4 separate regions of the Homo sapiens genome follow, and regions 1, 2 and 4 are each reported to be linked to region 3. The links are microRNA targets in miRTarBase. Many come from high-throughput screens and were not tested one by one. Region 3 holds a microRNA gene; each other region holds the end of a gene's coding sequence.
Evidence for each region. Region 3 holds the annotated microRNA hsa-miR-107 (AGCAGCAUUGUACAGGGCUAUCA, at 1,806-1,828, opposite strand). A microRNA usually pairs through its seed, bases 2 to 8, with sites in the 3' UTR of a target mRNA and lowers its output. Matches are read on the target gene's strand: a 7mer-m8 pairs with bases 2 to 8, a 7mer-A1 pairs with bases 2 to 7 and ends in A, and an 8mer does both.

Region 1: miRTarBase lists SLX9 as a target of hsa-miR-107. The part of its 3' UTR that is shown has no 7-base or 8-base seed match.
Region 2: miRTarBase lists MTMR3 as a target of hsa-miR-107. The part of its 3' UTR that is shown has no 7-base or 8-base seed match.
Region 4: the mRNA of YRDC is a reported target of hsa-miR-107. Seed matches in the 3' UTR shown: 7mer-m8 at 2,854-2,860.

The regions. Positions count from the first base shown.
Region 1 is chr21:44,975,609-44,980,479 of GRCh38, forward strand. SLX9 (SLX9 ribosome biogenesis factor) reads left to right here. Exons shown (of 6, transcript NM_058190.4): 6 at 1,072-1,365. The coding sequence ends at 1,195. Among named protein-coding and RNA genes, the nearest start is that of LINC00163, 16 kb to the right of the region's middle. RefSeq lists enhancers at 3,373-4,271, 4,272-4,871.
Region 2 is chr22:30,025,575-30,028,574 of GRCh38, reverse strand. It overlaps MTMR3 (myotubularin related protein 3), which reads right to left. Exons shown (of 20, transcript NM_021090.4): 20 at 1-2,945. The coding sequence ends at 2,774. All of the region lies in intron 3 of HORMAD2-AS1 (HORMAD2 and MTMR3 antisense RNA 1), which reads left to right. Among named protein-coding and RNA genes, the nearest start is that of MIR6818, 20 kb to the right of the region's middle.
Region 3 is chr10:89,590,951-89,595,821 of GRCh38, forward strand. MIR107 (microRNA 107) reads right to left here and starts at 1,877; the gene lies at 1,797-1,877. It overlaps PANK1 (pantothenate kinase 1), which reads right to left. Exons shown (of 7, transcript NM_148977.3): 4 at 2,863-3,039; 5 at 2,247-2,370.
Region 4 is chr1:37,800,956-37,805,826 of GRCh38, reverse strand. It overlaps YRDC (yrdC N6-threonylcarbamoyltransferase domain containing), which reads left to right. Exons shown (of 5, transcript NM_024640.4): 4 at 1,383-1,525; 5 at 1,830-2,882. The coding sequence ends at 1,902. It overlaps MANEAL (mannosidase endo-alpha like), which reads right to left. Exons shown (of 4, transcript NM_001113482.2): 4 at 4,694-4,871. Among named protein-coding and RNA genes, the nearest start is that of C1orf122, 4.4 kb to the left of the region's middle.

The sequences.
Region 1 (4,871 bases), not on the chromosome of region 3:
CCTGGCCTCGGCTCCTCAGTTGCCCCAGGTGGGGCCTTGTTGGGTCCTGGTAGCCCCAGAGATCACTAGTAATGTCCAGGCTGTGACTGGGGCATTTCACCCTGACTTTACGGGGACAGCCCCAGCTGCCATGCTGGGGCCAGGGTGGCAGTGGCAGGAGGAGGTGGTGGTTAGTGACCAGCAGAGCCCTGACCGCCTCCTGCTGTGGAGACGGCCCCAGCCCCACTGTCCTCTGTGGCTCTGGTGTGTGGGCACCCCGCCCAGGCGGTCGTCCAGCGGGGTGTGAAAGAGCCTTGTCAACTGCCCAGGAAACCAGGGCCAGTGTGGTCCAGCCTTGCACAAGGCTCCGTGCACACGGGGCACACAGGCCGGAGGGGTACAGGCCCCACCTCCCCGCCACCAGGCTCAGGGCCTCTTGGCAGCTGCGGCAGAGCCCGTCTGGGAGCTGCCCCCGAGGCTTCTGTGCCTGAGAGGGGACCCAGGCCACCTTTTGTGTTCCACAGGGCAGCTCTCTGGCGTGCGGCTGGCTGCGCGGGGTTTAGAGCAGGAGCTGAGTGGCCGCCGGGCTGGGTGGCGGCTGGGGTGAGCTGGTGCCATGCTGGGTCGTCGCCGTGGCACCCATCTGGGGCTGCCGCGCCCCACTCTGCTGCAGGCCTCTGCCGGCTCAGGCTCTCGGCTCTCGGCTCTCGGCTCTCCTCTGTGTGCACCTATTTTGGTTGCCCGTGGAGGGAGCCGTCTCTCATGTAAGGAGTGAGTCTGCAGGGCTTGGGAGTTGCCGCCGCGTTTCTCAGCCTTGGCGGCAGCCCCATCAGCCCCAGACTTGCTGGCTGGGTGACACCTCAACGGCAGACCCCACAGTGGGCGCTGCCAGGGCTCTGGGATGCACGTGGCCACGAGGAGGGCCCGGGGCAGCCTCTCCCCTCCTGCCGGAAGTTTCCGAGGCCCCAGTACTCAGTCCCGTGGTGGCCCCAGGCCTCTGCCATTCATTTCGGTGTCTGACGTTTCCGGGTGTTGAGGGGCTGAGGGGTCCGGGGGTTCCTGCCTGCTGATCTGTGGTCTCCATTCTTTCAGCGAGGAAGAAAGGACCCGGTTTCAGGAGCTGCTGGCCAGTCCGGCCTACAGAGCCAGCCCCCTGGTGGCCATCGGGCAGACGCTGGCCCGGCAGATGCAGCTGGAAGATGGCGGCCAGCTCTGACCAGGGCAGCGGGCATGCCACAACTCCTCAGGACACATGTGGGCCAAGTAGAGAGCGCCGGCCCCTCAAGGACCATGGCCTGAGCCTGGTGGACGCCCTTCCCTCTGGTCGGTTGTGGGGCTCAATAAATGGCTCTGTGAACTTCCCCTGCACTGCCAGGGCCGTTCCCATGAGCTGCTTCCCTGATTCACAGGGCTGGGCACACCCTGGGACAGCTGCCCCCACTCTCCTCAGGACAACAAGCCACATCCCTCCACTGGGGGCCCCAGCCCCCACGCAGTCAGGGTGGACCGTGCACAGGGTTTGTGGGGACTGCAGTTGTGGAGGCCCCAAGTCCGTCCCTGAGCAGGCGCTGGTGCCCACAAGATAGTCTGCTGGCTGTGTTGGGAAGGAATTGTGCCTGGGTGTGGCCCCAGCTGTGCCACCAGCCGCCCTGATTTGCTTCAGCCTCAGTTCCTGCTGCGGCCCTGGTAGGATCCAGGAGCACTGAGGCCTGCAGGGGCTGCCGTGGGGGCTGGCTCAGGGCCTTCACCACCTGGGGGTCTGTTTCCCTTCCAGTCTCCCCTGCCATCCTCAGTGACCAGGGACACAGATGGCCCTGGCAAGGCCCCCGGCCTGCTCCTCGCCTGTGGGCTGCACCCCCCCTACCCCACCCGTTGCCCTCACCCTACCCAGCTGCTCCACACCCAGGCAGCCCACTGCCTTGCTCTGGGGGCGGAGAGCAGAGGGTCCTTCTGCAGGGAGGAGACGCGGAGTGGGCCCAGCCCTGAAGCTCTTGCTGACCCGGAAGTGAGAGAGGTCCTCCTTTGTTGCTGGAAGCCCTGGGATTTGGGGGTTGGTTTTTGGACTGTGAATCAGTGACTGATCAGTCCTTGTTTTCAGGTTGTGGAAAGCAAGGGGGTGGTGCGTCCCCAGGCCCCTGAGGCCCAGCTTGGCTCCCCCTGCCCGAGCTCCCCCCGTCCCAGGGCCCTGCAGGGCCTCGCTGGCCCATGTCCTGCAGCGGGGCTGGGCAGGCTGGATGTGGTGGTGTACCCCACTCAGAGTGTCTGGGAAGTGCAGAGCAGGACCACTCTCAGCTCCCAGGCGGGGGCCCAGCACCCTGAGCCTTCCCAGGCTGCCTGGGGTGGGGGTGGTCCCAGGGACTCTGGGGCCTCCTGGCTCCAGGGCATGTGGGTGGCCCCTATGCACAGCCCCTCTTGTTGTGAGCCCCCATGATCCGACCTCCTCTGGCCTTGCTGCCTGCTCAGGGTTCATAGCCCCAGCAGCCCCGCCAAGGATGCCTGGCGAGTGGGTGGCCGAGGCAAGTTGGAGCCTGTGTCCCTGCTGTTCAGTGTCCTGGCCCTTCCCTGACACGAGCAGACACGGCATCCACAGAGACAGCCCGGACACCCTCCAAGGCCCCGGCCGATGGGACAGACGGGCGTACAGGAGCCATAGGCAGCAGATCCCACGCTCCCTCGGCCGGGGCCAGCTTGGCTGCCCAGCCCCAGCTCCTTAGAGAACGGGCTTCTCGCTTCAGAGGAGCTGGTCACAAACCAGTGGTCGCGACAAAACCATTCCTGTGGTGGAGCGCGTGTGGGGCGCGTGTGGGGCGCGTGTGGGGCGCGTGTGGAGCGGGTGTGGGGCGCGTGTGGAACGTGTGTGGGGCGGGTGTGGGGCGGGTGTGGGGCGGGTGTGGGGCGCGTGTGGGGCGGGTGTGGGGCGCGTGTGGGGCGGGTGTGGGGCGCGTGTGGGGCGGGTGTGGGGCGCGTGTGGGGCGGGTGTGGGGCGCGTGTGGGGCGGGTGTGGGGCGCGTGTGGAACGTGTGTGGGGCGCGTGTGGAGCGGGTGTGGGGCGGGTGTGGGGCGCGTGTGGGGCGGGTGTGGGGCGCGTGTGGGGCGGGTGTGGGGCACGTGTGGAACGTGTGTGGAACGTGTGTGGGGCGCGTGTGGGGCGGGTGTGGGGCGCGTGTGGGGCGGGTGTGGAGCGCGTGAGGGGCGCGTGTGGGGCGGGTGTGGGGCGGGTGTGGGGCGCGTGTGGGGCGGATGTGGGGCGCGTGTTGGGAACAGCGTCCGGGATGCACAGAGCACAGCGCGGTGGGGAGGCGGCAGGGGCGGCTTCCACTTCCTCCAGCATCCCAATCCCACCGTCTGGGTTTCTTGTGAAAAACCTGGCCGGGCGCAGTGGCGCACACCTGTAGTCCCAGCACTTGGGGAGGCCAAGGCAGTCGTATCACTTGAGGCCAGGAGTTCAAGACCAGCCAACATAGTGAGACCCCATCTTGACAAAAAAATAGAAAAATTAGCCGGGTGTGGTGGTGCGTGCCTGTAGTCAGCTACTGGGGAGGCTGAGGTGGGAGGATTGCTTGAGCCTAGGAGGCCGTGGCTATAGTGAGCCAAGATTGCGCCACAGCACTCCCACCTGGGTGACAGGGTGATCCTCTCTCTAAAAAATAAAAACGTAAAAATGTTTTTTGCTTCCTGGTTTTGAAATGACTCTTGTCTGGTTGTGGCTCGCAGCCCCTCTTCTAGGGATCCTTGCGGGCTCAGGGGCCTCTAACTCCTCCCTGGGTAAGCAGCCCCCGGCGGTGCCTGAGAGTCGTGTGGAGGAGGGTGCCGCGGAAGGGAGGAGGATGCCGCGGAAGGGAGGAGGGTGCCGCGGAAGGGCGGAGGGTGCCGTGGAAGGACAGCGACAGGTACTTGGCCGGGCAGGAGTGGCAGCAGGTGTCCCATCGGCTGAGATGGATGCAGATTGTCCCAGGAAAGTAGCCCTTGATAGTATTTGCGGGGGTGCCACCCCAGCATTCTTTGCAGGTGCAGAGCCCAACCCTCAGCTAAGGCCGCAGCTGGGGCAGGGTCATCTTGTGACAGAAGGGCGTCCAAGTGTGGGGTTATCCGTGGCTGTCAGCTGAGCGCTCCTGGCCACCATTGAGAGGGAGGCTCCAGGCGGAGGATGGGGTGTGTGCATTCTCTGGACAGACACCTGGGGTAGAGCCCCTGAATCAGCAGATCAGAGAGGATGACTGTAGGAGCTTCAGGAGCAGGAACATGAATCCCTCGGTAATCGATTTAAACAAGTTCTACAGTTGACTCGGCTTTCATGCCTTTTAGACCCTGGGGCCCTCGGTGCATTTTTCCGAGTTAAAGGGTTAACACAGCAGATCAAAGCTTCCTGGGGCCTGGAGGTGCCTGGCGCTGGCCTGCAGGACTCTGAGAAGCTCTGGGCTGGGACCGTGGATGCCAGGCTCAAGGCCCGCAGACCTGGGCTGGGCACGTCCCGGGTGCCTCAGCCCCAGGCCCAGTGTTGGCATATGGGGGACTGTGGGGCACAATGGGAGACAGGAGAGGCAGTGGGAGGAGCCCCCCACCCTGCCAGTCCCGCAGGAAGGGCAGTGTCTGGTTGCAGGGGGTGTGGGGTGTTGGCCAAAGGAATAGCAAATGCCTGGCCCAGAGTGAAGGGCTCCTGGCTGGGATGGCCACAGGCCCTGGGGGGTCTCCCTCAGCCCCGGGCAGGCCCAGGTTCTCCTTCCAGGCGCCCGGGATCTCCTTTGTCCCTGGCTGTCCTCAGGCTGCACTTAGTGTGGCCACTCCAAGGGGGGCTGAGGAAACCACCTCTCAGCACCTACCAGGCTTCTGTAAGGCCCACACCCAGCAGCTATTGGATCCGCCTTTCCCCAAGAAAGCCCCCGGCCCTCCCC
Region 2 (3,000 bases), not on the chromosome of region 3:
GAGGGAGGAACAGCATAACATATCTCACCCACAGACCCATGTGATGGGAGGGATGCCCAACAGTGCTGTAGGGTAAAGAAAAATCTACCTCTGTGAAGAGCAAGAACTAGTATTGAAGTGACTAGATGCCACAGTCCTGCTGTAAGAGCTAAGGAGCAGAGGTTCCTCTCTGTGTGGAGAGAGGGCGGGAAGGAGACCTCTAGTTGACTGCATAACCCAATCACATCTAATTCCATTTCTGCCCCCAGTTCTCTCTGCCCACCCATAGTCTATCCTTCAAGAACAACAGGCAGAAGCATTTTCTCACCCCCACCCCACATCTCCTTCCACTCCCCGACTGAAGGGGCCAGAGTACTGGCTGCCCTGAAATCAGAGCAGCAGCTAAAAATGGAGCCTTGAGGCGAGAGGTAGTTGTAATGACTACTGATGGGAACTCTTCAGAGAAGGAGGAATAGCTGCCAGGTCAGATCCCTGACTGCTTTGCCCTCTTTTAGCCTGGGAGATTTTAGGAGCAAAATCACTGAGGAAATGCGTTCAGTGCTTGAACATCATGGTGAGGCTCCTTGCCAAGGTCTAGAGTCGGAAGGCTATCTGTAGCTTTCCTTTGCCAAAGGTCAGTTTCCCAGCAGGCCCTCAAACACTTCTGTGTGAGAGGGAAAAGGGACGAAGAGGGGATAAACCACAGGGCAAAGAATTAGGAAGTGTTAGCAAATGCTACCATGTGGAACACTCAACTTTATTTGCTTTATTTATATATTTAACAATTCTAAAGTATTTACTTCTTGCTTTGACAAAAAATGAAAAATATAGGAGCACTGACTGACTCCTCTTTAGGAGAAAAGGGTTATATGTACAGCTATGGAGAGTTACGGTTCCTCCTTTAACAAAGGAAAATATTAATAAAAAAGTGCTTCATCGATCAAAAAAGAGCTAAGAGCTGCAAGCATTTATTCACACTGTACATCAGACCCAAGAAACCCGTATCATAACCTCTTGGCACCTGTCACTAGGAAATGCACAATCTTCAATTAGACCAACTTTTTCCCTACCTGCACGACTAGATGACACAGAATGTGGAAAAGAACTACACCCTGTTTCACCACGTTCAAACTGTGTTGCCACTGGAAGTCAGAGACGTGCTCAGATGCTCTGGGCTTTGCCTGGACTGAGAGCACCAGGGAAGCCTTCTGGGCCACGCCTTAACCACACCCAGGCATGCACAGAACCACCTTCCTGAGACACACCTTGCCCTTGGTCAGGGAACTGCTACCAAGGGGAAGAGGAATACAGGGCAGGGCCAGAGCTTAAGCATTCCCTGACCTTACCCCTAGTCCTCACCATGATCCACCCTGTCACCAGTTAGCAGCTTTCAGCAGAGTCAAGCATGGCCTCCCCAAGAGGGAGGGCAGGCACAAAACATGGATGCCAAGATTACAAAGCACAAACCTAACTCTTCTCCAACCTTCCCCACACCTACCTCCACAAATATTCTTGATTTAAGGCTGTTTTTGGACCATATCAAAGCTCACTGAGGAAAGGTGCCCTGAATCTCCTCAAGGCCATGTCACTTCTCTAAGGAACCCTACGAAGTCACCAAGTGGCCCTTCACTGCTGGCCAGCAGCCAGACAAGTGCCCACTCAGACAGCCAGGAGTGGCAAAGGGGGACTGCTCAGCAGTTATTCCTGTCCCAAGAAGAGAAGAGGAGAAAGGCTGATTGTATGGGACCTGCTCCCTTTTCCAGGGGCTTGTAACTCTAAAGGCTGATTCTACCCCTTAAAGGGAAGATCCATGATTGGTTTGGTTTGGGAACGGGGGATTTCTGGAACCCTGAGTCTGGATTTCCCTGTGCTGGCTGAGGAAGAGATTGTTTAGGGGACCAGGCCCCAGAATGGGGACCCAGGTGTGTCTGGGCTCAGGGCAGGCTTTGGCCTTGACTGCATAAACATTTTGACCAGTCTGTACTCATGCCTGAGGGTGGGAAGTGCTACACAGCCTGGCCCAGGAAAGCAGCCCCCTGAAAGTAAAAGGAGCCCAAGACAATCTGGGTCAAGTTAAAAATGGGATCCCACGGGGGACAACATGACGGCTACCCACTCCCAGCCCCTCGCCTGCCTCAAAGGAGCATCCACTTTCCTTTCCCAAAGAGGCGCCTAAGGGGATGCCATTTACCGTGTGCCTCTCCCTCCAAACATCAGCCTCATTTATCCATCTGTGAGGGGACTGGCTCAGCTCCTCGCAGGAGGGAGATGATGCCCAGGGCAGTGCTCTTGGGGAATATGCTTCCAGCCTCCCCAGCAGCAAAGGGTTCCCAACCAGCTCTGATGTGGCGGTGGCGTGAGGAATGGTTGCATGTTAGCACTGGCTTTCTTCCCTGCTCACGGTCTCAGATCTCCATACTCCTGGCTCTGACCACCATCCTCCCACCCGGAAGAAACAAGCCATCCCTCAGTGTCACGTGACAGCAGGCAGCTCGGCAGTTACAGTGGGCCTGGCAACCCTTGGTCTTCCATCAAAAAAAAAAAAAATTAAGACAACCAAGGGAAAGTTTCCTTTTTTGAAGGCAGAGGAGGAGGATGGAAAAGGTAGGGAGGGAGTAGGGGGACAGGAAAGAAAAATCAATCTACAATCCAGTGGTGCATCCCAAATCTGTCACTCTGTACAGGTGGTTCCACGCTCCCATTCCAAAGTGCACGGGCCTCTCGGTCTGCCCAGGTTGAGTGGGCCTGTCATAGGAACAGCAGCTTGGCCACTGCCCACCCAGGTCACTGAGCTTCAGTTGGAAGTGGCAGCAATGGGCTTATCCAGTTCAAGGTCAATGCTGGAGCTTGTGGGATGTAGGCTGCTATAGCAAGACTTGCATACTCGACTGGGTTCAAAGAGCTGCTGGCTGGGAACTGGAACCTTCTGGTTACAACAACTGGAGCAGAATACGTTCCCACAATTCCTTGAGATGAGAAGAAACAGAACAATGTTAGTTTTGGCCAGCAGGTATGCGGAGG
Region 3 (4,871 bases):
GTGTTGTGAAGCCTTAATGATTGCAGAATCTGCACTGATGGATTAATGGAGGTTCTTTATACTGTTCTCTCTCCTTTACATATGTTTATGAATTTTCTTAATAAAAAGCTGATAAAGCAAGATATAGAATAGTATATGGAGGGTGAATTGTATAGCATATAATTATATTTCAATAAAGCTATTATTTTGTAAAAAGAATGCTATATAGAGTTTGCTACCTTTGGAAAGATAAATGTATCCTACATTACATACAATATAAACAAAGATATATTGTAATACGTACAATAAAAACAAACAAAAAAACCCTAAAAAAAATGGCAGCCTCTACTGAGGTTAACACTGAGAGACAGAAGTGGAAATGGTGACTCACTTCCTTGTGTATCCTTCTAATGTCTTAGAAGTCTGTATTATGTGTTTGTATTATCTATCCAAAAATTTGAATCAGAAAATTTATAACTGATGGGGAAGCATTTCACAGCATCTCAAGAATCACAGCAAAAATGTTTTAGATTTGGTAAACGTGGTGTCCCTCAATGAAATGGCTGCAATCAAAGGTTCTCAAATCAGTGACTCCAGAGAGCAAAGCAAGGACTGAGGGACTTGGTGGCTGCTCTCATGGGAAATGCAACACTGCCAGTCACTGGTGCGGCCACTGGGAGTCTGCACTGACTGGACACCCTCTGGTAGAGCCTTGGCCCCAAGGCGACTGGTGATTCCCTTCACTCATTCAGCCCCACAGAAACATATAAAATAGTTGCTCAAACCAGTGTATAACATGGCTACATTTTCAAATTGGCACTCGCTCTACTCCACCAATCAACAATATTGAAATTGAAATCAAAAGTGAAAAGTAAAGTCAGTTGCTCTCTCCCAAAGGGATTCTGATGCCTGTGAAAAGACCTGCTGACCTGCTGGCTCACTCCAGCAAAAAGCACAAGAAGCCAGCTCTGCGGAAAGTAGGGGAAAGGGCATCTATTGCTCTGTGGGGCAAGGGTTGTTACCAGCTGACCTTTGAGAGCCCATGAGTACAGCCAACTACACACATATTGGTCTTGGGGCTTGTTTCATTACTTGGAAAAATTCCCTTTAAAGGTTAATGTCAAGAAATAAACTCTGTTACATTGAGTCCCATGACTCAAGTGGACTTTGAAAAAACATCTCTGGAATGCTCTTTTCTCTGAGTATCAGCCTCCCATTTAAACTCCGTCTGAACTGAGGGCTTCCAAAAAGGTATATCGCTGATCTGCAGGCCAGTAACATACTCTGTTCAGTGTTATGCAAGGAGAGTATGTTTTTTGTCAACCCAGAACTCAAAGGCAGGGCTAACACCCATGTATCATAAAGACTGCCTCATACACTAACATTCAACTATTCAACTGAGAGGGGGCTCAAGGGGCTTTCTGAGTACCTATAATGTTCTATTTCTTGATCTGGGTGATGGCTATACAGGGTTGCTTGTGTGTGTAAATTAAACTGTAAGCTTATAATTTGAGCCTTCTTCTGTATGTATGTCACCTCTATTAAAAGCTGTATTTATAAAAACTCCATTACAGATCTACTGTGGTTCTTTAATACTCTCCTATGACCTGTTCCATGCCTCAACTCCTCTTTCCTGTCTTTCTAATATACCTCAGTGTGAAGAGTTCTACTTTATACACCTTGTATTTCAGAAAAGGTTCAATTTTTTCCAAACGAATCTTGCAATGCTTCAAAACATGTTAATACAACTTTGTATGTCACCAGCTCCACCCCTTTTTGTGCCTGGGACTCTGGCTGGCCTTGGCTGTAGCAAGCTCTCTGTGCTTTGATAGCCCTGTACAATGCTGCTTGAACTCCATGCCACAAGGCAACACTGTAAAGAAGCTGAAAGCAGAGAGAATATCGAATATTGCAAGTCGAGCATTTTACCTGCAGTTATGTGCAAGGATGCTCAGACCTTTTCCTCACATTTCAGTGGACACATGGCAATAATGATGGTTAGAGAGACTATGACATGGGTTGTAATTGTATCCTGTTTCCACAGGTGAATGGTTTATCATTCATTATCATCCAGTGCCTTCTTAAAAATAAAGCATATATTCCTCCCCCTCCCCCAACACACACCCCTCCTGTTCTGTAAAGTGTGACTAGAGTAAAGGGAAGCTTTCCTAAGGATATGTAGTTGTGTAAGAGTCAACAGGTGTTGCACTGCCAAGATGATGTATATGAATGACACACAGCTTTCACCGGGTTGAGTAAGGCCTTACCTCATTCAACGCGCACATCCGAGCAATGGAGCCAATGTTGTTGGTGATGGTGACCAATGTGGCCCGGGCGAGGTCTTCCTTGCTGATGGAATCTCGCTTTTCTTTACTCATCATGTTGCCAAAGCTATGTTGGAAATATCAGCGAGAGTGTTCAAAATCGTCCTCAGGCAGGGCCCATCCTTCCACCAAAGTATTGTGGAAGGCTCTACGAGTAACTGTTCAAACTCAAGTGATCCAATTTTGCTACTATGGTTTATAAGCAGACAGAATTATAGTATGCATGGCTGACCGCCCTTTTCTTAATAGGGACAAAGTAGCATGTCCATTAATGGGGGGGGAAAATTAATGCCTCTAGATATCTGGACAAGAATGGAACAGGTGAAACTATTGCAGTTTTCTAGAACCTTCTTTCAAAGTTGCCTTATTTTAAGAACAAGCATCAAGAGCTAAACATCTCAGTGCTTCATCAAGGGCAGGAGATCAAGTCTGAGCTCTGATACAACAGGTATCTGCACCAGGCTGGTGGACTGACATTTTAAAACAACTTAGTGAATGGCCAGGGTGGAGAGGCTGCCTTGTGTTTAATCACTACTGCTCCTAGCTACTTAATCTCTACCTTGATGCTACAGCAGATCCTTGAAGGCCAAATCGTTCATAGTCTCCTCCGTAAATGTCCTTCACCAGTTTATCAACATTGGTGCTGTCGCCTTTAGCTGCCATTTCCAGAGCTTCTTCAAAGGTCTCACAACCAGTCAGCAAGCAACATAGGCCTAGGAATGTTCCACCTCCAAGACTGAAGGAATAATAAGGTTTATTTTTAAATTTTACTTTAAGATATGCCCATCCAAGTCCCCAACTACGTCAAGACTATTAATATGGGTGAATAAAAGCAGACGAACAAAGGGGCACTTGAATTAAAGTGCTAGGGTGCAACAGAGCTTTAGGGTAGACTGGATATGAAAAGAGGGCAGAGACTAAAAATAAACATCAAGGAAAATTTGCCCCTAAATTTGAGAACAAAACCAAAGAAAGACTCTCACTGATTTCTGTTGTGAGACCTTCAACTAGCCACTAACCTGAGTGCTTTGTTCAGCCTTCCCACCTATGAAATGGGGCCAAATCATGATCTCTTCTATTTGGGTGGTCTGAAAGCAGCAAATAACCAAGAAATAACTCCTATTAAAAAACCATATGCAGCTGAATATAAATACCTAGAAAAAGAATTTGTGTGTACATAAAGCATAGTTCAAAGCTATGAAGCCAAACCCTCTGATGACAAAACTGACCCAGGATTGTGCCAGGAGTGGCCTGTCTTAAAAGCTGTGTTTTACCTGACCTTGCTTCTCTAGCAGAGATAATCTCATTTAGCCTCCTTGAATATTTCTAGAAAGGAACCACTGATCTGATACTGAATTTTTTCCTAGTAGACTCTCCAGAAGGTTTTTAGTATATTACTTACCACTCCATAGTAAAAAACAGTAACAAAGGTCATAAAGTGGTTCCAATGGTTGAACTACATTTAAAAAGCTTTGACTTGTTTAGAGGGAAAGTTCCTCTAAAACAGCCTAGACAAAATTAGAAAGTAATTACAGTAGCCAAGAATGAACTCAATTGTGTATTAATATCAAAGTTACCTAATGGAAAGAAAAGCAGATTCAGAGTAAAGTATCGCCAGTGAACTCCCAGCAGGAAAAGGAGTATTGATTCCTAAAGCTAATGGACATAGGTTTTCCTATTTCTTTACCATGTAGAAGAGTAAATGAAGAAGAGCTGCTCACATCCATCTGTTCTGAAGCCCCAAAGAGCTACTAGCTTTGGAAATTCAATTTGTGTTTGAGCACTGGCTTTTACTTCTAAGAATAAAATCAATTTGGGATTAAGGTTATGTTTAATAATGTCAATAACTGTTAACAAGAAGGTACAAAACTGTAGATAGGTACATAGTTCTTGAAGATGCATCTAAAACGAAACTGACCGGGCGTGGTGGCTCATGCCTGTAATACCAGCACTTTGGGAGGCTGAGACAGGCAAATTACTTGAGGTCAGGAGTTTGAGACCAGCCTGGCCAACAAGGTGAAACTCTGTCTCCATTAAAAATACAAAAATTAGCCAGGTGTGGTGGCTGACACCTGTAATCCAAGCTACTCAGAAAACTGAGGAAGGAGAATTGCTTGAACCCAGGAGGTGGAGGTTGCAGTGAGCCGGGATTGTGCCATTGCACTCCAGCCTGGGCGACAGACACAGCGAGACTCCATCTCAAAAAATAATAAAATAAAATGAAATAGTGAAACTATGTGTAATATTCTTAAATTGTCATTTGTATAAAAGTATACTTGATTGAGGCCAGGCGTGGTGGCTTATGCCTGTAATCCCAGCACTTTTGCAGGCCAAGGTGGGTGGATCACCTGAGGTCAGGAGTTTGAGACCAGCCTGGTCAACACGGTGAAACCCTGTCTCTATTAAAAATACAAAAATTAGCCAGCCTTGGTGGCACGCGCCTGTAATCCTAGCTACTCTGGATGCTGAGGTGCGGGGATTACTTGTACCCTGGTGGAGGCTGTAGTGAGCCGAGATTGCACCACTGCACTCCAGCCTGGGTGACAGAGCCGGACTCCATCTTAAAAA
Region 4 (4,871 bases), not on the chromosome of region 3:
ATACGATGGAAAGTCCAGAGTTAGAGCCCGTATCCCTGCTCAGAACTCCATTCGATGGGTTTTCCATTCCCAGACCTAGAGTGGGGCTCAGGGTTCTTAGAAAGTGAGAGTTCAGCATCCCTTCCCATTCTCAGAGTGCAGGTTTGACTTGGTCCTGGTGGCTGTACCCCAGGAGCAAGAATCGGGATGTGGCACAGGGAGGGGAGGTTTTTACCTTGTCAGCAATCATTTGACCTGTCCAACACAGTAACTGGTATTTATGATTTCCTGTCCCAGATTTCCAGGCCTAACTGCCACTGCAGTGTCTTCCTTGGGGGGTTGGGGAAGCTCTAGCTCAGTTAACAATTCAGTCCACTGCTCTAGGGGGAGTATCCTTCTCATAGCCCAAAGACTGAGTGCTGGTGGCATGCAGAATCTACCATGTTCTACTCTTCCTACCCTGATCAGAGTCGCAGTGAGATCCAGGAGCATAGTTCTAGAGCTAGAAGGAGCTGGAATCACTTGTTCCAGGTTACGCAGCCATTAAGTGACCAGATTTTTACCTAGTTTTTTTTTGTTTTGTTTTGTTTGAGACAGTCTCACTCTCTTGCCCAGGCTGGAGTGCAGTGGCACCATCTCAGCTCACTGCAACCTCCATCTCCCGGGTTCAAACAGTTCTCCTGCCTCAGCCTCCCGAGTGAGTAGCTGGGATTACAGGCGTGTGCCACCATGCCCGGCTAATTTTTGTATTTTTAGTAGAGATGGGGTTTCACTATGTTGACCAGGCTAGTCTCAAACTCCTGGCCTCAAGAGATCCAGCCTCCCAAAGTGCTGAGATTACAGGCGTGAGCCACCATGCCTGGTCTTTTTACCTAGTTTTTGACTCTTGACCCTGTTCTCTTATCTTTGCGGCAAGCCAGGTCAAAGAAAAGATCATCCTAGTCCTGTCTTGGCTACATAGATTAGAACAAATGAAATGAGGACATAGGATCATCTAGTCCAGCCCACTTGTCTTGTAGGCCTGGATAGAGTAACTTGCATGCAGTCACACGGAGATACGATGGAAAGTCTAGAGTTATAGCCCGTATCTCTGCCCAGAACTCCATTCATTGTACTTATATTTCCCTAACTGAAGCAATGTGTGAAATTTCCTTTTGACATAGCAAGATTTTCTTTAAACCCTAGATAGGTGTTACTTGGAGTGCTAACCCAGGAGGCCTCCAAACCTCATAGAATACAGTGTCTTTGGCACAGTTGACCTTAACTAAATGAAGCTCCTTTCTCTGCTTAGAGGAAAGTGCCTTCTGTTTTAAGACTATATGGCCTTTGATGACTGCGTGCAGTTTGACATTATTGGATACACCAGGGATAGTGTCCATGCTCTTCCTTCTCCCTCTTCTCAGGAGTTCCAGGATCTCTGGCCTCAGTTGTCCTTGGTTATTGATGGGGGACAAATTGGGGATGGCCAGAGCCCCGAGTGTCGCCTTGGCTCAACTGTGGTTGATTTGTCTGTGCCCGGAAAGTTTGGCATCATTCGTCCAGGCTGGTAAGTCTCTTTCCTGTGGTGTGGGGAAATAATTTGAGGGAGGTTGGAGAGATGCAAAAAAGCTTTGACAAGATAAAGATGGTGCCTCCTATGTTGCCCTGAAGGAGTGTGGGCCAGGTTTGGAGAAGTGGTAGTTGCAGTGGGACTAAGTTTCCTGGCTTTCTTAGGATTCAAAAGGTTTCATCAAGGGTTGATGAACAGGGCTTAACAAGGCTAGCCAGTTTCGATGTCCCTGCTCACCAGCCTCTGGTGGGCTCGGGACTTCTGAGAAGTCAGACTGGTAACTGTCCTGTTTCCTCCTCAGTGCCCTGGAAAGTACTACAGCCATCCTCCAACAGAAGTACGGACTGCTCCCCTCACATGCGTCCTACCTGTGAAACTCTGGGAAGCAGGAAGGCCCAAGACCTGGTGCTGGATACTATGTGTCTGTCCACTGACGACTGTCAAGGCCTCATTTGCAGAGGCCACCGGAGCTAGGGCACTAGCCTGACTTTTAAGGCAGTGTGTCTTTCTGAGCACTGTAGACCAAGCCCTTGGAGCTGCTGGTTTAGCCTTGCACCTGGGGAAAGGATGTATTTATTTGTATTTTCATATATCAGCCAAAAGCTGAATGGAAAAGTTAAGAACATTCCTAGGTGGCCTTATTCTAATAAGTTTCTTCTGTCTGTTTTGTTTTTCAATTGAAAAGTAATTAAATAACAGATTTAGAATCTAGTGAGAGCCTCCTCTCTGGTGGGTGGTGGCATTTAAGGTTCAAACCAGCCAGAAGTGCTGGTGCTGTTTAAAAAGTCTCAGGTGGCTGCGTGTGGTGGCTCATGCCTGTAATCCCAACATTCTGGGAGGCCCAGGCGGGAGAACTGCTTGAGCCCAGGAGTTCAGAATCAGCCTGGGCAACATAGCAATACTCCGTCTCATAAAAATTAATAAATAAAAAGTCTCAGGTGACCAAAGGCTCCTGAAGCTAGAACCAGGTTTGGATAAAGATTGAAGAGCCACAGGCCACTCTTCCCTCTGAGCCATTGGGCCTAGTGGTGTCATGTATTGTAATTGCTCGCAGGGAGAGCAGTCTTTTTGGTGTAATAGTGGGATGTCTGCTTAGTTGGCAGGGGTTCAGTCCAAATGGAAGAATATTGGGAAATAAACCTCCACTATCCTTTATAGCCAGGGACTTTTTTCTTATTTATTCATAAAATAAATTATAGTTAATTATACCCATAACACCTTTATTTAAATCCAGTGTTCTCCGCAGCCTTTTGTCTATTTATATGTGTACCAAGTGTTAAACATAATTATTATTGGGCATTTGAACTTTGTTTTTCTTTAAAGAAATGCTGCTATTAAACATATTTGTAAATGGTTTGTTTTTCTTCTTTTGAATTATTTCCTTAGGAGAGTAGGTCAAAGTGTAGGAAGTATTTATGGCTCTCAGTATGGATTAGCCTTCAAAAGAACTGAGTCAAGTTACACTGCTGTTAGCAGTGTGTGAGAATGGCTGCCTCTGCCCCCTGGCCTTCCCATGTTTAGTATTTTTCAGATTGTGTGTGTGTTAAATGAAGCCAGTGTTGCTACCTTCTGTAAATTACTACAGGTCAACATCCAACCCTTTCAGCTGTCCCTGCCTGCCTTGGTTTCCCCAGCTAAGCCCCAAAGCCAGGTGGCCAGGCCTGCTCATCTCTCTGGTGGGGCTTAATATCAGTTACCTAACTGGGGCTGGGTGTCCTTGAGGTGACCACTGGGGTCTATTTCCTCCTTCCTCCCCTTCCCTCTTGTACCCTAGTTCCCAAAATTCTGATTCAGTCTTTTTTTTTTTTTTTTGAGACAGAATCTCTGTTGCCCACACTGGAGTGCAGTGGCACGATCTTGGCTCGCTGCAAACTCCGCCTCCCAGGTTCAAGTGATTCTCACACATCAGCCTCCTGAGTAGCTGGGACTACAGGTGTGCACCACCACACCCTGCTAATTTTTTTGGTATTTTTAGTAGAGATGGAGTTTTGCCATGTTGGTCAGGCTGTTCTTGAACTCCTGGCCTGAAGTGATCCACCCGCCTTGGCTTCCCAAAGTGCTGGGATTACAGGCATGAGCCAAGGCACTCAGCCCATTTTTTACTTTTTTAAAGACACGTCTCTCTGTGTTGCCCAGGCTGGTCTCGAACTCCTGAACTCATCCTTCCACCTCAGCCTCCCAGAGTGCTGGGATTACAGGCATGAGCGACCACGCCTAGCTTCCAATTCAGTCTTGAGCCCATAAACTTCTCAGTACAGTGGTTTCCAATGCACCTGTTTCCAAGTATATCCTAAGAATCTTGTGTTAACAGGGGCCTGCTTTAATCAGGGTTCCTGCAATTAGCGTATTAGTTTATTGGTAAATAAGCACTGGTTTGTTAATTCCCTCTAGAAATCTTGTTTAGTAATGTTTTTTGTGTTTTCTTTTTGTTTGTTTGTTTGTTGTTTTTGTTTTGAGACAGTCTTGCTCTTGCCCAGGCTGGAGTCCAGTGGTGCCACATTGGCTCACTGCAACCTCCGCCTCCCAGGTTCAAGCGGTTCTCCTGCCTCAGCCTCAGAAGTAGCTGGGATTACAGGCACCCACGCCCAGCTAATTTTTGTATTTTTAGTAGGGATGGGGTTTCACCATGTTGGCCAGGCTGGTCTCGAACTCCTGACCTCAGGTGATCCACCTTCCTTGGCCTCCCAAAGTGCTGGGATTACAGGTGTGAGCCACCACGCCCAGCCTTGTTTAGTAACTTTTTTTTTTTTGAGACGGAGTCTCGCTCTGTCGCCCAGGCTGGAGTGCAGTGGCGTGATCTCGGCTCACTGCAAGCTCCGCCTCCCGGGTTCACGCCATTCTCCTGCCTCAGCCTCCCAAGTAGCTGGGACTACAGGCGCCCACCACTACGCCTGGCTAATTTTTTTGTATTTTTAGTAGAGACGTGGTTTCACCCTGTTAGCCAGGATGGTCTCGATCTCCTGACCTCGTGATCCGCCCATCTCGGCCTCCCAAAGTGCTGGGATTACAGGAGTGAGCCACCACGCCCAGCCATTGTTTAGTAATTTCTTAAGCAAACCTACTTGTTGTGGTAAAGCCATAGCCAGCCCAGCTCCTGTATCAGTTTGTCACAGAATCTAAGGTCAGAATCTGTGAGGTCTTAAAGAGAGCAAAAGGAATGCTTACTTGAGAATACCAGTTCATATTTAATTACTACTAATCACAGTAGCACTGAACATGGCTCTAGTGAGTGGGCCTCAGTCAGTTCAGGCAGCTAAAGGGAGGGGGATTTCCTCCTAGTCCTCTCCCTAGAGCTAAATATGCATCTGGGAAAAATTAGGCTCTGGAGCACAGAGGTATTTTT